2 linked regions of the Homo sapiens genome follow. The protein of the gene in region 1 interacts with the protein of each later gene in a pairwise test. Each region holds a gene or a part of one and is shown on either strand. Other genes may lie near its edges.

The links.
Region 2: the proteins of ANXA3 (region 1) and IGSF21 interact in a two-hybrid assay, tested with the Homo sapiens proteins (one large-scale study listed by BioGRID and IntAct).

The regions. Positions count from the first base shown.
Region 1 is NC_000004.12:78,607,252-78,611,068, forward strand, and holds the end of ANXA3 (annexin A3), read left to right. Parts: intron 1-2,804; coding exon 2,805-2,864; 3' UTR 2,865-3,196; downstream 3,197-3,817. UniProt on the Homo sapiens protein: Inhibitor of phospholipase A2, also possesses anti-coagulant properties. Also cleaves the cyclic bond of inositol 1,2-cyclic phosphate to form inositol 1-phosphate.
Region 2 is NC_000001.11:18,289,298-18,293,114, reverse strand, and holds part of IGSF21 (immunoglobulin superfamily member 21 precursor), read right to left. Parts: exon of another isoform or gene 3,585-3,817; intron 2,061-3,584; exon of another isoform or gene 1,250-2,060; coding exon 1,128-1,249; exon of another isoform or gene 1-1,127. UniProt on the Homo sapiens protein: Involved in synaptic inhibition in the brain. Selectively regulates inhibitory presynaptic differentiation through interacting with presynaptic NRXN2.

The sequences.
Region 1 (3,817 bases):
TATTATTAAGTAATCTCATTACATTTTTGCTATTGAAGAACAGGATCTTTTTAGATGGTTGTTTCTGAAATTCATGGGATAGAGTTCCATTTTGCATATCATCTCAGCCTGTCATCCTGCCTGTTTTCTTCCTTCCACCTATTGTTTAGACATTTCTTTGTCCATTGACACCTTTCTCAGGGGGTAACCGGTGGGAAGGAGAAGGCAAGGAAGAACAGAGGTGAAAAACCAATGTGTACCTCTTACTACTTTATAAGAAGATATTATGGAAAATTTAGATGAAATTATATTTTTTGGTAGTTTTCCTTCATAGACAAATTCTGTATTTATTTAATAAATAGCACAATTCCAAGCTTTTTATGGGAAAATATAGTAGCCACTCACAATCAACTCATAATCTATGTGGAGACTTGAGGTAGGTATGAAGAAACAATTAGAAGATAATAATTGAAACAACAGACAATTAAATACTAGATTGTTGAATATAGAGCTAGTACTATCGGAATTGAGAAGAAAAGAAGTTTGGGGTTAGAGAAATGGGTCTTGAGCCTGCCTTTCAGGTCAACAAGCATGTGTTGAGTGTCTCCTGTGGGCCAGGTGCTCTGCTGGAGCATTTACCTTTAAGACCCCAGATCAATAGGGTCTTAAAAGTAAATGCTCTAGAGACAGATATGGGAAGAAGCAAGAGGGAAAGAAGTAATAAGGCATTTGTTTGATTAGAGGGTCTACCTTGGGGAATATTGAGAAATAAAATCCAAGTAGCAAGATGAGTTCAGTTGAAAGAGAGCTTTGAGATCAGCGAATTCACTCATTCAATTAAAAATATTATCAAATGCATATTATGTGCTAGGCTCAGGGTTACAATTATAAGCAAAGGGGGTAGGGTGGGGGAAGACATTTTCTGCCCTTATGGAATTACAACTATGTTAAATGTAAAGGAAAGTGACATTGTGCTAAAAGATCCTACAATAGTAGGACTTGACTTAGAGGAAAGGCTTCTATGAGAAAGTCATGATTCAGATCTGGAAAATAAGTAGATATTAATAAGGCAAAATGTATGGAGGTAAGGGAGCCAGTAGAACATTCTAATAAAAGAAATGACAAATGGAAAGGCCTCATGGTGGAGGAAGCATAATGAAAAATGAGGATGTGGGGGCCAGATCATGCAGGACCTTTTTGGCAATGTTTAAGGAATTTTGGCTTTAGCTTAAGAGTAAGGGGAAGCCATTGAAGAGTTCTGGGCATGAGCTCTTGAAGAGTTAGTATCAGGATCATGAAAAGATCCCTGTAAGATCTTCTTATTCTGGAGAATAAGAAGGGCTCAAAAGATATTTAGGAGTTGAAACTTAAGGGACTTGGTATAATATCTTGGTGTGAGGAAAGGAAGATAGCAAGGATGACACTCAAGTTCCTAACTTGGAAAACAGACAGTGGCGCCATTCCTTGCAAGAGGATCAGGTTTTAGGTTGTTTGTTTGTTTGTTTGTTTCCTTTTCTTTTGGGGGAGTGGGGGGAGGTTTATGAGTTTGGTTTTACATGTATTGAGTTTGAGATGTCTTTGAGCCATGTAAGACATGTGGAGAGGTCAAGTAAGTCATTAGCGGTGTAAATATACTTTGAGTTACTTGGATGTATTTTCTTGACTAACTGGTAGAACGCCTAATTGTTTACAACTCTGATCAGAGATGTCTAGAAGGAGCTCTTTTAATACAAAGCTGGAGCATTGTTGACTTGTCAGCTCTGCTATTGCAGAGCAAGACAGGAAAACCAATAGCATAAGAACTAAAATCTATATAAAAACGAAGAATATTGTCATATATTTTGTGAAACAGACAAATGAACAAGAAATAAAGAAAACAGAAAAATATATATAAAGGCCTATTGTGTCTTACTATGAAAGTAATGCTTAACTTCTTCACTAAATGAGCCTTCTCTGAGACTTCCTTTATATTACCACTTTCTCTAATATTCACCCCAGTAACAGCCATTCCAAATGTGAAACTTAAGTGATAAGAAGAGCTCACTGGTTGGGTTACCTCAAATAAAATAAAAATAATGTGAGCATCTTACACAATCCAGGTTGAAAGCCAAGTTTTACCTCCTGTGAAGTCTTTTGCGTTACAAACTTGGTATCTTTGCCCTTTAAGCCTCAACCTCACGTAGTATCTTTTCTGGACAACAGTCTATTTTTGGTTGGCCTTGGGAAAAGGAACTGATAAACATATTCTTTAAAAATGTGGTTCATTTCACTTTCCTAAGTTAGGCAGTGTAGCAGGGTATTAAGGAGCCAGGATATAGGGATTCAAATCCTGCTTTTGTCACTTATTCTCGATAAGATTTGAGGCAAGTTTCCTAACCTGTCTTTCTCATTTTACTTATCTGTTAAATGGGGGATACGTATAGTACCTATTGCAGAGAGCTTTTAAAAGGGTTAAAGTAGTTAATACACATTAAGCCTTTTGAATAGCAAGTGTTCGATAAATATTATTAAAACTAAAATTTGAAGTTTTTATAGAAATCAATATTATGTAAGTGATGCAATCTTATTTTATTAAACCAAAATTGAAATTTAACTGCAGTATATCAGGAAGAATCTAAATATTACTTACAGTGAAGAAGATGCTGGTCAGAACGTAATTACACTCAGGTATGAATGAATGATGGAATTGCAGGTATGTTTTACTAAATGGTATAGCTCATGAGTCTCACACCCAGGTGAATTCCCTAGTGCTATAGGATTTGATTCATTTATGGTCTCCCATTATTTATACTGTATTTGTTCTTCATTGATTTTATTCTTTGCAGTCGGATACTTCTGGAGACTATGAAATCACACTCTTAAAAATCTGTGGTGGAGATGACTGAACCAAGAAGATAATCTCCAAAGGTCCACGATGGGCTTTCCCAACAGCTCCACCTTACTTCTTCTCATACTATTTAAGAGAACAAGCAAATATAAACAGCAACTTGTGTTCCTAACAGGAATTTTCATTGTTCTATAACAACAACAACAAAAGCGATTATTATTTTAGAGCATCTCATTTATAATGTAGCAGCTCATAAATGAAATTGAAAATGGTATTAAAGATCTGCAACTACTATCCAACTTATATTTCTGCTTTCAAAGTTAAGAATCTTTATAGTTCTACTCCATTAAATATAAAGCAAGATAATAAAAATTGTTGCTTTTGTTAAAAGTAATTTCTTTGTTTGCTTTCAGAGCTTGCCAACATTGTTTGATGCCTGGTGCCAACAACTAATATTTTAAAACATGTTTCTGTATAGAAGCTGTTACTGCTTCAGTTTATCACCTTGTTAATCACACTTTTTTGAAAGAAAGGAATAAGATGAAGATGTATGTGACCCTGGCCTACCCTTTGTAGTTGTGATCAAGCTATAGGAGTGGTAATGCATGATAAGTTATTTCAGCTTTCAGAAAACATCTGCTGAAGGATTAATCTAACCACTTCCTGTCTGAATGGCAAGCATGAATTATGGTTGCTTCATGCTAAATACTACTTTCCCAGAATGGGCATTTAGAATCAAGCCTCTAAGGTTTCCTTTTCTCTTGAGTTGGCAAAACTATGCATTTAAAGAATCCATCATGCCATCTTTGAGTGGGACCTAATATGAAATACCTTGACTGATATGAAATAGATAAAGTGAAAAAAATTCCAGTTAGAGTTATTTTCCTGGACCAGAATAGAAATGATCGTACTGGCCATGTGCAGTGGCTCACGCCTGTAATCTCAGCACTTTGGGAGGTTAGCAGGCGGACTGCTTGAGCCCAGGAGTTTGAGACCAGCCTGGGCAACCTA
Region 2 (3,817 bases), on another chromosome or scaffold:
CTTCCCCCTCCTCCAGGCTCAGTCTAAAGACAACACAGTACCAGGCACTAGCTGAGACATCCACATAGCATGGTGCCACAGTGCACATCATGTGGGCTTGCCGGGGCTGCAGTCCCCCTCACGGTACCCGATGCAGCACGGTCCCCCTCCAGCTTTGGAGCAGACCACTACTTTCAGGCTGGGCACCTGGCAAAGCATTTGGCGGTGTGGCGTGGAAGAGTGTGTGTGTGCAAAGCTGTGCACTCTTCATGAATGCAGTGAGATTCCCTCTGAGGAGGGGTGGGTACTGGGGCAGTTGCAGCCGACCAGCTTTGGGGGATCAGTTCAGCTAAGGTGAGGGCTCCCATGGGTGGAATTGCTGGAGTGGGGTTCTGAAGGCTGATGAGGAGTTTACCAGATGACCGAAGGGAGAAAGGCCCTTTGAGAAGAGGGACCGGTGTGTGTTAAGGGTCAAAGGGATAAAACAGGACTAGGATCTTGTAGGGAGTTTGTGGGAAGGAGATAGAGCCACACACATAGAGAACAGCAGGCTCTGGAAGATCGAGTCAGCTTGATTCTGCCACCCGCCTCCTGGAAAACAGGGATGGGGTAGGAAAATCAAGCATCTCCGACTTGAGCACTGCTCCTTCCCACCCTGCTGCTTCTGACCTGGGAGTCCAGTTGCTTGGGGTCATTCTCTCTTAAGCTCGGGGCCCTTATGGCCTTGGAGCACACAAAAAACAGTAGAATGTGGTGTTTGAGCTTCCAAGCCGGGCAGAACTGCTTCACCGCCCAGCGGTGTCATTGTTGCCTGTGTGACTTTAGGCCCATTGCTCCCCCTCTCTGGGCCTCAGTATCTCACTTGGAAATAAATGGAGTTTGGAATACCCACCTTCCAGGACTGTTGGAGGAGCTGGCAGAGGAGGCCAGTCAGAAGAGCGGTGGCCTGGCCCTCTCCTGCCTCTTCCCTCCAGGGGATGTCCCTCCAGGGAATGGGTCCCACTTCCATAAGGGGAGCCCCCAGTTCTGCCTTCCAAGCCCAAGAGCACCGAGGGATTGATGTGAAAGGGCTGGAGAACTGCCCTCTGCCCCACTCCCCATCCCTCCGCCCTTCCCCCGCTGTCGGCCCGCCACCCCCAGGCACTCACCTCACAGTGGACTGGTACACCAGGTCCTCTCGCTTGCGGTAGTTCTCCATGTGTGAGTAGTTGGTGGAGAACATGGCGTCGAAGGTGAAGATCTTTTGCTTGATGGTGCCACCATCCGTCACCTGCCACAGAGCACAGAGATAGCCACACGTGAGTGCTCAACCGGCCCTGGTCACCCCTTTCCCCAGGACACTGACAAGATGCAGGCAGGAAGCCCAGAAGAAGGACAGCCCCCATCCTGAGAATAAGGTAATAACCGAGGGCTTCCTGGAGGCAGCGATGTTTTAAGTTGCCTCCTGAAGGAAGAGTAGGAGCCAGCCTGGCAACGGGTGGGAGTTTTCTAGGCAAAGGGAACAGCAAAGGCCCTGCGGCAGGAAAGAGCAGTGTGCGCTCAGGGGAAGCTTGCTGCCTTCACAGCACCTGGAGAAGAAAGGAAGTGGGATGAGAAGAGGCTGCGAAGAAAAATGTGGGCCAGATCATGGAGGGTCTCCACAGCAAAGGAGCTCAGCTTCTCCTGAAGGCGGTGGTCCCCGGGGCCAGGATTAGATTAGATTTACAAGCTCCTCTGGCTATAGATTGAGGATGAATCGAAAGGGGCAAGACTAGAGGCAGGGAGCCCGGGAGGAGGCCAGGAATCCAACATCCCGGCACGGGCGATGCAGACGGGGACAGCGTGGGGCACTTGCCCTCGTCTTGGGATGGGCCAGGAGAGAGGACATGAAGTCCCCATTTCACCTAAGAATGCGGAAGTGGGAGAAGGCAGGGAGGTGGCGATGAAGCCAGCGCTGGAAGCCCAAGGCTGCCGGGCTGTCCCGCTGTTCATGGCTGATGGAAAGCGAACCCAAGCGTCCGTGCCCTCAGCTGCCGCCCGCCTGCTTCCCCACATCTGCGCTGCCTCCAGCTAATGAAAGTGTTACTCCACGAAGCAGCAAGGTATGTGTTGTCACTGTTTCAATTATTTATCTGTTTACTCGGCTGCAGTTTTTCCGCTTGTCTCAGCAACTCTATTATAGACTGGGAGCTTGCAGCCTCTCGCAGCTCAGCTGGGCTCTGCGCTAACAGCCTGCAATGGGGAGGCCTCATGCCTGGGCCTAGAGAAGTGGAATTAGCTCCCTGCGGCTCTGTGTGGTGGAGGCAGCGGGGAAAGGGGCAGGGAGGGGGCTGGCTAGGGACGGGTGACTCCAAGGGGCTGGGGTAGGGGGGATGCTGAAAGCAGCTTCCCCAGGCAAAAAGGTGAGGATTGGAGTGTGAATCTGTCCCCCTGTCACCTGCCTGGGAGTACTGGCCCTAGACACAGCTGGGCTCCTCTGGACACATATGTACCCAAGCTGACTTGGACCACATCTCTCTGACCTAGGTGGTGTTGCTACTGGTTTAGGAGAGACTCCGTGCATCTGGCCAGCACTGGTTGAGCAACCAGCTGTGTGCAGACACAGGCTACGTCTGTGCCAGTCACTTTCCATAGCCTGCAAGCTTTGTAAAGAGTAAGGTGGCCTCTGTGAGGACGGGGGATGGTTAGAATCATGAGAAGGCCTTCGCAGGCTCTGGGACCCTGAGAGGAAGCGGCAGTGAGACTTCCCAGGGCACGGCTTCTCCTTACCCCTCCGTAAGCCCACACCCCTCCTATCTCTGTCGGGACTTAGCGACATGTACACGCGTCACTTTCTTCCCCTCTGAGGGCTTGGCGCTTTCTGACCATGTGCAGAGGGGAGACAGAGGACCACTTCCTCCCACCTGGCTGCTTCTGCAGCACAGGCCCAGCTTCTGAAACGGGACCATGAGAGTGGAGGAAGATGAGGAGGACGGGGACAGGAGGATTCTCCTCTCCTCTTGGGATCCCTGCTGGCACTCACCCCAAGAAAGATGCTCACCCCAACCAACCACACCTTGACTCTGCGTCCACTGTCATCACCCAGAAGAATGTCCCTGAGTTGACTGTGTCCAGCTTGGCATGGGGTGGAGAAGAGAGTTGGCTGTACTTGGGATCAGAGCTTCCATCTCCCCACATCCCAATGTCCCAGCCTGGGGTAGAGGCCAAGACCCTCCAGGGGCTCCCCATTCTCCATGCACCCTCTTCCCATCCCCGCCTCACCCATTTGACTTTTTTACAGCCACCAAAGTACCTTTAAAGCAGGGCCTTTTCACTTGGGGGGTGATTTTGCTCACCCTAACCACCAGGGGACATACAGCAAGCTCAGGAGACATTTTTGGTTGTCACAACTGGGGAGGAGAGGTGCGGTTTGGTAGGTACCAGTGTCTAGCTGATAGAGGCTAGGAAGCTGCTGACCATTCCACTATGTCCAGGACAGCCCCTTGCCCCCCTCCCAAGAATTATCTGGCCCCCAAATGTCAACAGTGCCCAGGTGGAGAAACCCAGTTTTAAGCCCATCACATTGTGTGGCTGTACCAGGTCCCTGGGAACAGAGCCGAATAGACAAGAATGTTCCCATTTTGCAGGTAAAGAAACTGAGGCTTGGAGAGGCAAAATGATTCGGCTGAGGCCCCACACTAGGTTCCTGACAAGCGTCTGGCTTCTGGACCAGAGTTCACATCCCATCCCATCAGGCTGGAAGAGACTGCGGGTGAACTGAATGCCTCTCAACGTCCCTTTCCACCCCTGGTGGCCAGGCTCATTAGGAGAAAGGATGTCAGAATCTCAGTGGAGGTGTGAGGATTTTTCTCCCAAAGTC